4 linked regions of the Homo sapiens genome follow. The protein of the gene in region 1 purifies or fractionates together with the protein of each later gene. This does not show direct contact. Each region holds a gene or a part of one and is shown on either strand. Other genes may lie near its edges.

Region 1 (3,500 bases):
TTTTATACTTGTTAATGAAATCTTCCACCAACTGGCAATTTTCAACTGGTCAAATTTGTAAATTTTATCCTCCCTTTTTGGCCTCTGGTTTCAAGTATATTAAAAAGTCTTTCCCTATCTTTGTGATTATAAACATATTTTTCTGGCGGGGTGCAGTGGCTCACACCTGTAATCCCAGCACTTTGGGAGGCCAAGGTGGGTGGATAGCTTGAGGTCAGGAGTTCAAGACCAGCCTGGCCAACATGGCGAAACCCCATCTCTACTAAAATACAAAAATTAGCTGGGTGTGGTAGGCCTGTAATCCCAGCAACTTGGGAGGCTGAGGCAGGAGAATCGCTTGAACCCGGGAGGTGGAGGTTGCAGTGAGCTGGGATTGCGCCCCTCCACTCCAGCCTGGCAACAGAGCAAGACTGTCTCAAAAAACAAACAAACAAAAATATTTCTCTATTTAGTAGTTTCATAATTTTTTTGTCATTTACATATTTAATCCACTGGAAATGTATTTTTATATAATATGGTATAGAGATATAGCTTTTTTTTCCCCACAAAGTAAAGAAGTAATTAACCAAAAGCTGGTTATTTAGGTCAACTATTTCTCCCCAGTGATCTAAAATACCATCTTTGCTATATACTGAATTCCATAAACTCCTGGGTCTGTTTCTGGACAACCTATTTTTATTTCTTCTTTTACATTACATACCATAATTCTTCATTTATTTTCATTTTTTATTATTTCTTCTTTTACAGACAACCTATTATTATTGTTACTATTTTTTTTTTTGTGCTGTCCAGGAAACAATCCCAGGTCACAAGAATGGGAACTTATTATTTTTTTAAAAGTTGATTTATGTCTTTATTCTTGTGCAAGGACCAAACTGTTAGGTTTTTTTTTTTTTTTTTTGAGGTGGAGTCTCGCTCTGTCACCCAGGCTGAAGTGTAGTGGCGTGGTCTCGGCTCACTGCAAGCTCTGCCTCCCGGGTTCACGCCATTCTCCTGCCTCAGCCTCCCGAGTAGCTGGGACTACAGGTGCCCGCCACCACGCCCGGCTAATTTTTTGTATTTTTAGTAGAGACGGGGTTTCACCTTGTTAGCCAGGATGGTCTCGATCTAAACTGTTAGTTTTGTCACTTAATTCTGCTACTTTATAATTGCAAAGTAGGATCCTATTAATTAATTCTGTAAGTTTATGTATGTTTTCTTATTCTCAAGCGCTAACTCTTCCAAGTAAGTTCCAAATAATTTTAGAACATCCCAAACCATAAACAAAAATATCCAATGAAGGCAACTAAATTGAAATCTAAATAAAATAAAATCAACATCATTATAATAAAGAGTCTTCTCATCCAAGAAAATCTCATCCATCTATTCGGTCCCTGTTTTATATCCTTTAAGTAAAACTGTATTTTTCTCATTTATATCTTGCATATTTCTTGTTAGGTCAACTTATTAAATTTTAAATGCTACTTTATATTTCTTTTTTGGCCTCGTTTTGTTTTATTATTTATTTGGTTGTCTGTTTTACTTCCAGCAAAGACTTCAAAAATGTGATTTTCAAGGAAGAAAGTAGTGAAGAAATTACATACAGTACCTTTTCTAAAGCAATATGTAGTTCTTTTTCATATTCTGGTGGCAATCTCAGGAGTAGAACCTGGCAGGCATCTTTAATCAGTGGAACAACACTGAGAAATATTAATATAGCAATAAAAAGAGAACAGAGTGGGTCAGCGATGAACCATCCAAACTGCTCTATAAGAACTGTGGATACGATCACACCAATGCTGCCAAGTGTATCTGCCAAAACATGTAGAAATACACCTACAAATAAAATATATAAGGACATTAAAAATTAAGGCACATCTAATTTAGTTTTTTAATACATTCTACTAATATTACTGGATACCTACTGTGCACCACATACTCTGCTACTGGCTAGTACTTCAAAATGCCTAAAACATGGTCACTGCCCTCAAGGAATTCAGAATACAGTGGTAAAAATATAAGGACATAGGCACTCATGACACAGCGTGCCAAATTTTATGGTGTACTTTGTCTGGAAAGGCTTCCCAAAAATCATACTTGAGGCAAGTTTTGACATTACCCACATTACTTATATTAAGCAATCAGAATAAACAATTCAGCAAAATAAATGATTAGTACTTCCTCCATTTTTTTTATAGTGCAATAAAAATTTCTAAAAAAGGAGTAAGAATTTCCTTTTTGTAATGAAGGTTCATAATAGCACACTGTGTTTACCTTGCAACTAATATCTATTCAGCTGTCACTATGAAAAGGACTATATAATTATAATCATTTAAAAACTAACATTTAAGAACAAATATATTTTCATTTTCTTTTTGTTTTGGATAGAGTCTCACTCTGTTGCCCAGGCTGGAGTAAAGTGGCGTAATCTTGGCTCACTGCAACCTCCATCTCCCAGGTTCAAGTGATTCTCGTGTCTCAGCCTCCTGAGTAGCTGAGACTACAGGCGCCTGCCACCACACCTGGCTAAGTTATGTATTTTTAGTAGAGACAGGGTTTCACCATGTTGGAGAGACTGGTCTCGAACTCCTGACCTCAGGTGATCCACCCACCTTGGCCTCCCAAAGTGCTAGGATTACAGATGTGAGCCACTGTTCCCAGCCTCATTTTCTTTTTAAAAAATTTTCTGTGACGGCCAGGCATGGTGGCTCACACCTGTAAGCGATTCTTCTGCCTCGGCCTCCTGAGTAGCTGGGATTACAAGCACCTGCCACCATGTCCGGCTAATTTTTGTATTTTTAGTAGGCACAGGGTTTCACCATATTGGCCAGGCTGGTCTTGAACTCCTGTCCTCAGGTGGTACTCCCGCCTCAGCCTCCCAAATTGCTGGGATTAACAGGCGTGAACCACCATGCTCCCAGCCAGAATGTCCCTCTTTTTAAAGGCTGAATAATATTTAATTTTATGTGTATTCAGGTAAGAATATTTTCTATAGTGATAGCTTCAGACCTTTCTTTTAGTCACAGATTGCTTTTTAAAAATCATATCATACCAGAAGCCCAAAACTTAATACAAATAAACACAGAGGGTTGATTTAGAACACAGTTGAAAAGTAGGATAATATTTTGCAAGGACTCACCCCTCATGTTAGCATTCATGCCTCCACCCGCAGATCCGTGGCTGTGACCATGCCCATGGTCACTGTGTCCATGCATATGGTGTGAATGGCTGTGATCAGATGAGTGACAGCTTCCTTGAGAAGCTCCATGGGCATGGCTATGGGCATGGCTAAAGGCACAGATACCAATAAGGTTTACTATCAGCCCTCCAACTGAGACTGGCTAGCAAAAGGGAGAAAAAAAACCTTTAAATTAGTAATTTAAAAATAGACTTGTTATTTAAAAGTTATTATATAGCTATATATGTTTTTCTGTTTACAGTTTTGAAAGTATTCACAGTAAAACCTTACTAAGTTTCAGTAAGTCCAAAATTTTAAAAATGTGAATTTTAGAACATTTTAG
Region 2 (3,500 bases), on another chromosome or scaffold:
AGGAAAGGGGGGTGTACCTGCGAGGCCTGCCCTGCCCAGGCCCCAGCGCCCCTGGAGTTCCTGCTTCTGGTTCAGGGGAGGGCCGTGTCTCCAGAGCATGGAGAAGGTAGAACTGGCTTTGTGGGGCGGTGGCTCTGGCCCGGGAAGGCTCTGCTGCCCAGGAGGGGTCCCCACGCCCACCCGGGACACCGGGCTCCACCCCAGTCCACTCACGTCAGCCACAGGAACGAGGGCGTCGGCCAGATGCCCGATGCGGCTTCTCCCGTGGAGCCAGGACAGCAGCATGAGGCCCAGGGCCACGTCCAGCAGCACAGAGGCCACCGTGTTGGCCTTCCTGGAAGGGAGGTCCGGCCCGGCCGGCATGAGGGTGGCCAGCACAGCCTGGGGCCGCAGGAGGAGGCCTGCCTGGCCGGAGGGGTCAGCGTGGTGCAGAGGGGGATGGAGAAGGGGCCAGAGGGCACGCACCCAGCCCTGCAGAGACCAGGGCAGGCCCACACCTCATCAGCTGGGCAGGGTTCTCCGCCTTCCGTGTACTGAAGATTAGCGTGAGGTGCTCCAGCCGGTGCCGGAGCTGTTCGCACGTGGAGAGTTTGCTCCCGAGGAAGGACAGGGGCCAGAGCTTGAACACTCTGCGTGGGAGTGGAGAGGAGTGATGTGTCCCTCTCCAGATCCTCCTCCCACCGTCCCCCACTGTGCAGGGGACCACAAACACCCAGGCCACACTCCTGAGCTCAGCAGGACAGGGGGCAGGTGGGAGGGGCCCTCGGTGGCCCAGGTGGTGGTAGGCAGCGCTCAACGCGCCCACCTCACAGTGCACGTGACTAACACGGAGCCTGGCCTCCTCGCAGGTGCTGACCCCGGGCCACCTGGTCACCACATGCTCCCAGAGCCGGTGCCAAGAAGCGCCTGCCAGCCAGCAGCAACTCCCACGGGCCCAGGGCCTCGCCCCGCCGACAGGGCCCAGAAAGCTGCCCGGGGTCTCCTGGGCTGGCCTAGCTTCTCACCCCAGGCTTCCAGAGTATGCACCCCCGGGTCTAAGGCAGGGGGCAACTGCAGGTGACCCCTAGCTGCTCCCCATGGGGCACCTCCGCCAGGCAGATGAGGTCCCCTGTGGAAGGGGGCCCTCTGTTCTCAGCCACAGCTCGGGGCTACCCCCGTGCCCCTCAGGGCCCTTGGGCTTCAACTGACCCTTGGCCAGCAGCACCTGTGATTGTGGAGAGAAGCAGGGCCTGTAGACCACTCCCCCAGGCACACGGGGCCAGCAAGTGGATGACACCCCCACAGCCCATGAGCGCTGCAGTGTCCAGAGGCCTGCTGGGGGCACAGGCAGGGCTACAGGGAGGCCAGCGGGCCTGTGTGCCCTCAGGAGCACCCCCAGGCAGCAGTAGTCATGTCTGTGCTCACCTTCTGATTTCTCTTTCAGGGACCTAAGCCACTGAGGTTCACCCTCTACACCTTCTGGGAGGGCCCCTGGCAATCCCTGAGGCTGCCCAGAGACCTGGCTCTACCCCAGGGGTGAGGGACACCCTCTGAGAGGCGAGGGTTGGGAGAGCAGGATGGGGCCAAAGCCCGGGCTGCAGGAGTGGGAGGGGGCCCGGGCCCAGGAAGAGCGCATCTGGGCCTCTGTGCCCACTGCAGACAAAGGGATGGGCCAGCACTCATGGGACCCCACTCTTTGCCACCTGCCTGTCCCGGGACACCTACCGGCAGGCACTGACAGCTGAGACCAGCGACAGCAGGCTGGCCAACAGCAGGCAAATGGGTCCCGAGGCTCGCCTGGCCAGCTCCGCGAGGATGCTGGCCTCCACGCCCTCCGACTGCCAGTGGCTCAGCCGCACGGGGCCCTCATCAAAGCGGTCACTGCGGAAGAGCACCTCACTGCGTGCTACCGTGTCGAAGACGGCAGCCAGGCCCCCCGTGCTGGCAGTGGTGGCTCCAGCCTGGCGGTCGGGCAGGACGGTGGGCAGGTGTAGCTGTGACAGCAACACCTGGCGCTGGTCATAGAAGATGAGCATGACCTGGTCCTCACCAGGGGCACCGGGGGCAGTGGGCGCTTGCCGGTGGGTGGCCTCGCAGCTCCAGAACGTGCCGCCTCTCTCCCGGCACAGCCGCAGCCAGGGCTCATGGGGGAAGACAGCACCCAGGCTCTCCAGGAAGCGGCCCAGGCTCTCCTCGGGCTCCTGCCGGCAGTGGCACCAGGTGCCCAGCACGGCCACGCCCACCTGGCTGGCCTGCCGCACCTGGGCCAGGAGCTGCTTGACCTGGATGGGGATGAAGGGAAAGTGCAGGACCGCCAGGACCACGGCGCTGCTCTGCTCCGGCACCCACCGTCCCACCAGCAGCCCGCTGTCCGTCGAGACGCAGCACGTGGGGAAGAAGGCCTTGAGCACCATGCCGGGAGGCTGGAAGAGAAGAGGAGAGGCTCGGCTCAGAGCTGCTGCTGCCCCCCCACCGTGGGCTGCGGGATGTTGCACAGACGGCCTGACAGGTGCAGCCACAGGGCCCCAGGTCGGGGCACCTCAGCTTCAAGTTCGGTGGTGGACGCCGTAGGGCTCCTTGGCTGCCGCCTCGCGTGGGCCATGCTTCTCCAAGGGGCAGCCAGAGTGCTGGCCCCAAGTCCACCCCAGGCCCAGCTCAGCCCCACCCGCACGAGGCAGGACGCACATGCAGCCACCAGGCCTGCCCTCCCATTTCCAGGCCGGCCCAGGGCACGGCCTCCTCGGCACCACCTGACGCGGCTGTGGGGCCGAACCGAACTCCAGGCTTCTTAGTTTTAAGAAACCTGATTAGAGAGGTGTGCTTAAAGGTGTAGCACGAGGAGAACTGTACAATCTCATTAGCAAGGTCACGCCAATTGAAACCTTGACAAACCATGATTCACGTATTAAGCAAGAATAAAGATGAAAATGTAAAATGATGTGCTGCTGGGCTGTGGAAACTACCTCGTGCGCACGGCGGGCAGCCCCCCAGAAGGTCCCTGCCTCCCACAAGCCCCTCCCTGGGGGCAGGAAGGACCTGCCTCGTTGCTCAGGGCACACAGGGCTTCGGCCTCCACTCTGACCCCCGCCCACGGTGGCACCCGGCAGTGCCTGGCCCTCCCTGACATCCCCACAGCCACCCCAGGGCAGGGCTCCCTCAGGGAGCATTTTCTCTCCAGGATATATTTCTCCAACGACATGGGTGCCTAGAAACGGGGAGAGAGAGGCTTACAGGTCCCGGAGGTGTGGAGAAACTGCATCCTGCACTCTCAGGCTGAGGGACACCAGCCTTCCAAGGTGGCTGTTGAGTAGGAAGCCACCTGAGCTACCGCGGTTCCCAGGCCCTGGGCCTCTCCTCCCCCTTTCTCACAGGCCCCTGCGGAGCCATGCAGCCAGCTGGGGCTCCTTCTCCACTGATGCCTTCCCTGGCGGGGCCCCACAGGGCAGGAGGACTCCCTAGCGGTGGGGGCACTACTGGCCGGCTGGCTGGGCCGCTCGCCTTCCTCAGACACAGAAAGCCCC
Region 3 (3,500 bases), on another chromosome or scaffold:
TTTTTTATTTTTATTTTTTATTTTTTGAGACACTCACTCACTCTGTCACCCAGGCTGGAGTGCAGTGGTGGGACCATAGCTCACTGCAGCCTCAACCTCCTGGGCTCAAGCAATCTTCCCACTTCAGCCTCCTGAGTAGCTAGAACCACAGGTGTGTGCCACCACACCTGGCATTTTTTTTAAATTTTGGAGAGACAGGGTCTCACTACATTGCCCAGGCTGGTCTCAGACTCCTGGGCGCAAGTGGTCCTCCCATCTCAGCCTCCCAAAGTGTTGGGATTACATGCGTGAGCCACCGCACCAGGTTGCCTTAATCACCATTGTATTCCTGGTAACTGAAACAGCATCTAACATCAAAGTGCTGACAGAAAAAAAAAAACAAAACAAAACAGTGTCTGGAATATACTGGGGATAGATTAATAAATATCTTTTGACTGGCCAGGTGTGGTGGCTGACATCTATAATCCCAGCACTTTGGAAGGCCAAGGCGGGTGGATTGCTTGAGCTCAGGAGTTCGAGACCAGCCTGGGCAACATGGCGGGACTCTGTTTCTACAAAAATACAAAAAATTAGCCAAGTGTGGTTGTGTGAGCCTGTAGTCCCAGCTACATGGGAGGCTGAGGTGGGAGGCTCACTTGAGCCTGGGAAGTGGAGGTTGCAGTGAGCAGAGATCTCACCACTGTACTCCAGCCTGGACAACAGATCCTGTCTCAAAAAATTAAAATAAAATAAATGTCTGTTTAATGAATGAATCAAAGCATACAAAATTGAAATACATATAATGTCTCAAAGCTTTGGTTCAAGAATTCTTTTAATAATGCCTTTAATTTCTGGTAAAATTAGAGTACACTATAATTCTGGAATGTTTATTCATAATGGCCATACCTGATTGTTGGGCTTGGTGGATAAACATTTTCCAAAGTAAAGAGTTTCTGTAACACAAAGGCTGTTACATGCAGGCCCATCAATAACTCCAGTCTTGTACTTGTCACACTAAAAACCAGGAAATAAAAAAGTAGTTAATAGAAAAATATTCACAAGAAGAAGCATAAAGAGATATCTATATCCTTTATGAGTAAGTTCTATGACAAAAAGAACTGAGGCTTTGGACTTAGACAGACCTGGATTTGATCTAAGCTCTGTTACTTATACCTATATGATTATGAGAAAGCTTGTTGCTGCTGGGGTGTGCGTAGAATTTTGAAACTATTTTTCCCACATGACATGGTCTAAGGTGGTATGTTACCTACTCCTTCCAAGAATAGAGGCACTCTATCTTTAAAAATGGTTCCGGTTTTAGGCCAGGCACCGTGGCTCACGCTTGTAATCCCAGCACTTTGGGAGGCCGAGGCTGGTGGATCATTTGAGGTCAGGAGTTCGAGACCAGCCTGGCTAACATGGTGAAACCCCATCTCTACTAAAATAAAAAAATGAGCCAGGCGTGGTGGCGGGCGCCTGTAATGCCAGCTACTCGGGAGGCTGAGGCAGAAGAATCACTTGAGCCTGGGAGGCAGAGGTTGTGGTGAGCCGAGATCATGCCACTGCACTCCAGCCTGGGTGAGAGAGTGAGACCCTATCTCAAAAAAAAAAAAAAAAAAAACTTCTGGTTTTAAAATAAATAAAGTTTAGAATAACAAAATAAAGTTACCTCTGTCACATTGTCATCCTTGAGATCACCCAAAAACAAGAAAGGGAAAAAAACCCATCCACTCTCTGAAAAAATATGGTACCAATGAAACCCTAGGCACAATAAATGAGGATGACCTGCCAAATTCAGTGAAGATTACACCAGAGCCTACAAGTATGCTGAGATTAAACACCTGCTGTGGTCCCCACTCTCAGACAAAGTTGGCAGAGCACCAAGTAGGTGGTACATCTGCAGAGCACAACCATTATCCTGGTTGCAACAAAGATTTAAGGGGCACAAGCTGTGGGAACTTCCCAGAACTCTATTTGGCACCATGAAATAGTAAGATAAGACAGGCCTGAATGATAAAATGCTCAGAAATGTTCTCTTTGCTGGAGGCAGTCTGTTGATGAACTACGGTTGGGAGAGAGGGCCAGAAGCAGCTTCACTACCAGCTCAGTTCACTGCCCAGTTGCTTCCCGCACATGGCTGGCTGAAGGAGACCTCATTTCACTCAGTAATGAGTAATAATCAAAACCAAACAAGCAAAAGATCTATACAGCAAATCTACAAGAATTAGGAAGAATGGAATAGGAAAAGCAAATGTCAGATAAAAAAAATTTTCTAGGCAGGGTGCAGTGGCTCACGCCTATAATCCCAGCACTTTGGGGGGCCGAGGCAGGTGGATCACCTGAGGTCAGGAGTTCGAGACGAGCCTGACAAACATGGAGAAACCCCGCCTCTACTAAAAATACAAAATTAGCTGGGCGTGGTGGCGCATGCCTGTAATCTCAAGTATTCAGGAGGCTGCGGTGGAAGAGTCGCTTGAACCCTGCGGGGGCGGAGGTTGCAGTGAGCCGAGATCACACCATTGCACTCCAGCCTGGGCAAGAAGAGCGAATCTCCGTCTCAAAAAAAAAGAAAAAAATTTCTAGAAGAATGTTGCTATGAAACAGACCAAACATATTGTTATGAATTTAAAGGACTTACTGAACCAGTTTAAAATAAGACTTCAAAGCAGAAGAAATGATGAGGCAATAGAAGGAAGTTTAAAATAAGCTAACAGAACTCAGACAGGAAGGAAAATAAAACATCTAGAAATAAAAGCCACATTATAAATGAGGGGAAAGACAGACAGGGATAAAACACAGTAAGATTTAGGAGGACTAGGCCAGGCGTGGTGGCTCATCCCTGTAATAACAGCACTTTGGGAGGCTGGGCAGGCAGATCGCTTGAGCTCAGGAGTTCAAGAGCAGCCTGGGCAATACAGCAAGACCCCATCTCTACAAATAATACAAAAGAATTAGCTGGGTTTGGGGGCACATATATGTAGTACTAGCTACTTGGGAGGCTGAGGTAGGAGGATCGCTTTAGCCTGGGAGGCAGAGGTTGCAGTGAGCCAAGATCACACGACTGTACTCCAGCCTGGGTGACAGAGTGAGACCCTGTCTTAAACAAACAAAAACAATAACAACAACAAAAAACTTTGGAGGACAAGGTTGAGAAATGCAAGCAAAATGAAATGGAAATTTAAAAATAATAAAATGAATTTAAGATAAATGTATAGATAAAAAAGACAAAGTATATCCACCATGTCCATATGAAGGAGAATGGGAACTGAAGGAGAATGGGAACAAGTGGAAAAGAAAAAATATTCAAAGTAGAATTCAAGGGAAACTTCACATAAATTAAAACACTTTAATCTATAGATTGAAAGGACATACAATGAATGTCCCAAGAAAAACTGACAAGAATGACCCCTGTGACATATCCCACTGAGGTTCACTGGACTTCAAAAATAAGTTATCCTTTGAGCATCCAGGCAAAAAGATCAAGGCACCTTTAAGGGGAAACCAATCAGATTGGCCCCAGA
Region 4 (3,378 bases), about 110 Mb from region 1:
TCTCTCCTTGGGGTCCCCAAAGGACTCTCGGAGGCGGGAGAAGTCAGGGTAGAAGTGGGGGGAGGGTGAGATGACCTCCAGGAGCCCAGAATGGATCTCCGTGGGGAACCTGGGGGACGGGAAGGCCTAGTCCGTATGCAGCCTCCAGGGGCTGAGAGGGGCCGAGCCCACCAGACTGTGGCCCTTTCTTGAGGCTCACCCAGTGCCAGCCCCCCACCACCCCCTACACCCAGCCAACTGAGGTAGCAGAGCTCCAGAGGGGCTGGGCCACTTCTGCACACCCACCCCTCCCCCACCAGGTCCCTGCCTCCCCACGAGATAGGAAAGGCACTATCTCATGGGGAGGCAGGAACCTGCCAGCACAACACCCCGCACCGAGCTCTCCCGCCACCAGCTCTCTGGGGTCGCCAGTACTCACAAGGCCTTGATGTTCTCTGTCACTGCCGAAGTGTACTGTGAGTCAGTCTGTGGGGAGACCAAGCACCCTCCCTTAGCCCTGCTGCTGCCCCAAAAGGCCTGGAAGGGCTTGGAGAAGGGGCACAGGCTTCAGATGCCCCCCACGTGGAGGGAGTGAGCCTGCTGTGCTGAGGGCGGAGTAAGGGGGCCCCCAGAGACGGCCCTTTCCCTTTGGGACTCGCATGGCCAAGGACTAGGGGGTGGCGGGGGCGATGGGTAGGGGTAGAGGGTGCCAGAAAGCCCTTTCAACTTTCTATCTCGGAGCATTTGCGAATGAAACTAGCAACTGAACTTCCGACAGCTTTCTCCTCGGAATGGTTCCTGCTGTCAGTTCTGCACCGCGGGGGCTCCTCTGAATGTCCCCCAACCCCGCGTCCCGGCTCACTCGCCTCGGCGATCAGCACCACGATGACCGAGTCCTCCTTCTCCTGCGGGCTCAGCTCGGAGATGAGCGAGTGCAGAGTGTCAGTCAGGTACGAGTGCACCTCGCGCCGCACGCTCGGGATGCCCATCACCACCGACACTATGGGGGACGGAGGCCCGACGCTGGAAAGGGTGCGGGGGCCACCCGTCCCCCCACCCCGTGCTCCTCCCTGTCTGCGCCCATACCTCCGGTGCGGCCCTGGCCCACGCGCACCGCGGGCTGCAGACTGCTCTCCTTGGCCAGCAGGTGTGGCAGGTGATGGAAGACGGTGGGCAGGTGCAGCACGTGCCGGTGTGAGCCGTTCCACGGCTTCAATCGGGGGTCCTCTGGGTGGGTCGGGAAGGATCGGGACTGAGACCAGGGAACCTACAACCAGCCCGCCCCCGCCTTTTCCCCCTCCCGCCCCAGACCTCACCTGTTAGGCGGCCCCAGGTGCGATTGCCGTCTCCGTCTCGCAGCGCCTGCCTTTCTGACACGGCCCTCTTGATCTCGTCCAGCACCAGGTTGAGCTCCTTGGAGCGCTTGAGGCTCTCCTGCTCAGCTGCGTGCAACCGATCGCGCAGCGCCAGGAACTCCCGCTGGTAAACGTCCACAACGTCGCCTGCAGGTGGTAGGCAAGCCGTCACGAGGGGGCGGTCTAGAGCCACCCTACGGGCCCCTCCAGTGTGCCAGCGCACACATCTGGGTGTCCACCTCTGCAATAGCTCATTGACATCTGTTCTTGTGCCTGCCACACGTGACATAGCTGGGGTCACTCTAAAATTACACTGACACTAATGCTCATGGGGAGAAAACCAGGGGAATTAGCCCTCTTCCAGTACTCTCCCCCACCGGGGGTTATTTTATCCTCTGAGAAGGCATCTGAAGTGGAAATACGATTTCCAGACCTAGGTAGGTGGATCCTAAGCAAGGGCTGGAACAGCCTCAGACTGAATCCGCTCCATCCGTTGGCCTCCAAAGCCCACTCTTGCTTTTTGCAGCACACGCTCCCTCCAGCGGGTGGGCTACCCAAGGTCCTGGTGCTAGCTCTTCACTGTCCTTGTAGCGGTCGCTGGTTGCTCACCCTGCACTGGATTCTTAGCCTCACGATGGCCCCGGGGGGTGGCTGCTGCAGTTCCAGGAGCCCACCTCACTTCATTGCTCAGGTGAGCAAATGAGGTTGAGAAACCGGCCCTGGGGCTGCTCAAGGACAGTCAACAGCAGCGAGGGGACTAGCTCTGAACGCCCTGGTGCCTGTGTCTCTGGAGACCTGTGCTGCGCCTGGGGCACCCTGAAGGGTCCGCATGCCACCCCAGGGGGCCCCTGTCAGAACCTCCAGCTGGGCCCAGGCATGAGGGCTGTAGGTGGATGGGGCAGCACAGAGGTGGGGCTGCCCGACAGTAGAGAGGCACCACCAGTCTGGCAGGGACCAGTGAGCAAGAATGAGATCAACAACCTCCTGGTGGCTCGGTGCCCACAGTCCACGCAGCAGGACGCTCCAGGCCTCTGCCAGGCGAGTCTCTGAAAACCTATGTGGCCTACAAGGCCTTCTGTTTCCAAGTCTCCAAGTTTAAGAAGCCTGACCGAACTCCCTCTACACTCAGGCAGCTCTTCCATTCCTTGATCCTTGGTGGCTTCACAGACCCCAGAGTTGCGTGGGATGGCCTCACCCCACCAGCAGCCCTGTGCATGATCAAGGTCATGATCAGGCAAAGTTCAGTCACCTCAGGGCACACCCCTTTCCGAAACGGGCAGGAGGTCGAAGTGCCAAGTGACCAGGGAAGAGGAAGGGGTGGACCTGGGCAGGAGGGAAAGGTTTAAGGAGCAGGGAGCCAGGTAGATCTTCCCTGAGGCATCTCTTACCCAAGAAGCCAGCCCCCACCCTCCACACCCTGCCTCTCTGGGGCTAAAGGCTGAGGCAAAGCGGAGCCTCTGGACAGCCCCTGGCGGGAGGGAAAGGGGAGTCAGATTACTGGCTCTGCCAGGCTCCACGCTGGGCTCAGGGGCTCGGTTACCCTGGAAACCTAACCCCTTGAATGCAGAGCTGGCTATCCCCAGGGCTCACCCATTGCTGGGTGACACCAGGTGTAGGCAGCACTCGCCCACAGGGATGGGACTGGAGGTGCAGAGGCCTAGAGAGCCATCAGGAATGGGTTCAGAGCCACCTGCACCTGCAGGTGCGCCTCCCTCCTGCCTAGATGCCAGTCCCCGCTTGCCTACTTACAGCCACTGCCCACCCCCACCCCCGAGCCCCACCCTGGCTTTCTCTGTCCCACACGACTGCCTCAGATGGACAGGCTGGGTGGGCAGTGGTGGGTGATGCTGCCTGAATCACCCTGGCAACAGCCTGCGCCTTACCCTCGCTTCCTTCCTAGGGGCCTCCCCTCTCCCCCGGGTCCTGTTTACCAGGAGATAAAGGGCCCCACGGGCTCCCGCCCACACCAACCCTTCTGTCATTTCCCTACACACTGCAGGCCCTGGCCCTGGGCAGCCTCCCCCGCCTGCCAGCTCCTCCACCC

Evidence for each region. Proteins that work in one complex are often made in the same cells at the same time.
Region 2: the proteins of SLC30A5 (region 1) and PIGQ purify together in Homo sapiens (affinity purification with mass spectrometry; one large-scale study listed by BioGRID and IntAct). This does not show direct contact.
Region 3: the proteins of SLC30A5 (region 1) and DIPK1A purify together in Homo sapiens (affinity purification with mass spectrometry; one large-scale study listed by BioGRID and IntAct). This does not show direct contact.
Region 4: the proteins of SLC30A5 (region 1) and MGAT4B purify together in Homo sapiens (affinity purification with mass spectrometry; one large-scale study listed by BioGRID and IntAct). This does not show direct contact.

The regions. Positions count from the first base shown.
Region 1 is NC_000005.10:69,121,514-69,125,013, reverse strand, and holds part of SLC30A5 (proton-coupled zinc antiporter SLC30A5), read right to left. Parts: intron 3,321-3,500; coding exon 3,119-3,320; intron 1,816-3,118; coding exon 1,589-1,815; intron 1-1,588. UniProt on the Homo sapiens protein: Together with SLC30A6 forms a functional proton-coupled zinc ion antiporter mediating zinc entry into the lumen of organelles along the secretory pathway.
Region 2 is NC_000016.10:572,968-576,467, reverse strand, and holds part of PIGQ (phosphatidylinositol N-acetylglucosaminyltransferase subunit Q), read right to left. Parts: intron 2,403-3,500; 5' UTR 2,394-2,402; coding exon 1,705-2,393; intron 630-1,704; coding exon 498-629; intron 335-497; coding exon 214-334; intron 1-213. UniProt on the Homo sapiens protein: Part of the glycosylphosphatidylinositol-N-acetylglucosaminyltransferase (GPI-GnT) complex that catalyzes the transfer of N-acetylglucosamine from UDP-N-acetylglucosamine to phosphatidylinositol and participates in the first step of GPI biosynthesis.
Region 3 is NC_000001.11:92,849,963-92,853,462, forward strand, and holds part of DIPK1A (divergent protein kinase domain 1A), read right to left. Parts: intron 994-3,500; coding exon 886-993; intron 1-885.
Region 4 is NC_000005.10:179,800,489-179,803,866, forward strand, and holds part of MGAT4B (alpha-1,3-mannosyl-glycoprotein 4-beta-N-acetylglucosaminyltransferase B), read right to left. Parts: exon of another isoform or gene 1,624-3,378; coding exon of another isoform or gene 1,482-1,623; coding exon 1,296-1,481; intron 1,207-1,295; coding exon 1,066-1,206; intron 980-1,065; coding exon 846-979; intron 466-845; coding exon 419-465; intron 110-418; coding exon 1-109. UniProt on the Homo sapiens protein: Glycosyltransferase that catalyzes the transfer of GlcNAc from UDP-GlcNAc to the GlcNAcbeta1-2Manalpha1-3 arm of the core structure of N-linked glycans through a beta1-4 linkage and participates in the production of tri- and tetra-antennary N-linked sugar chains.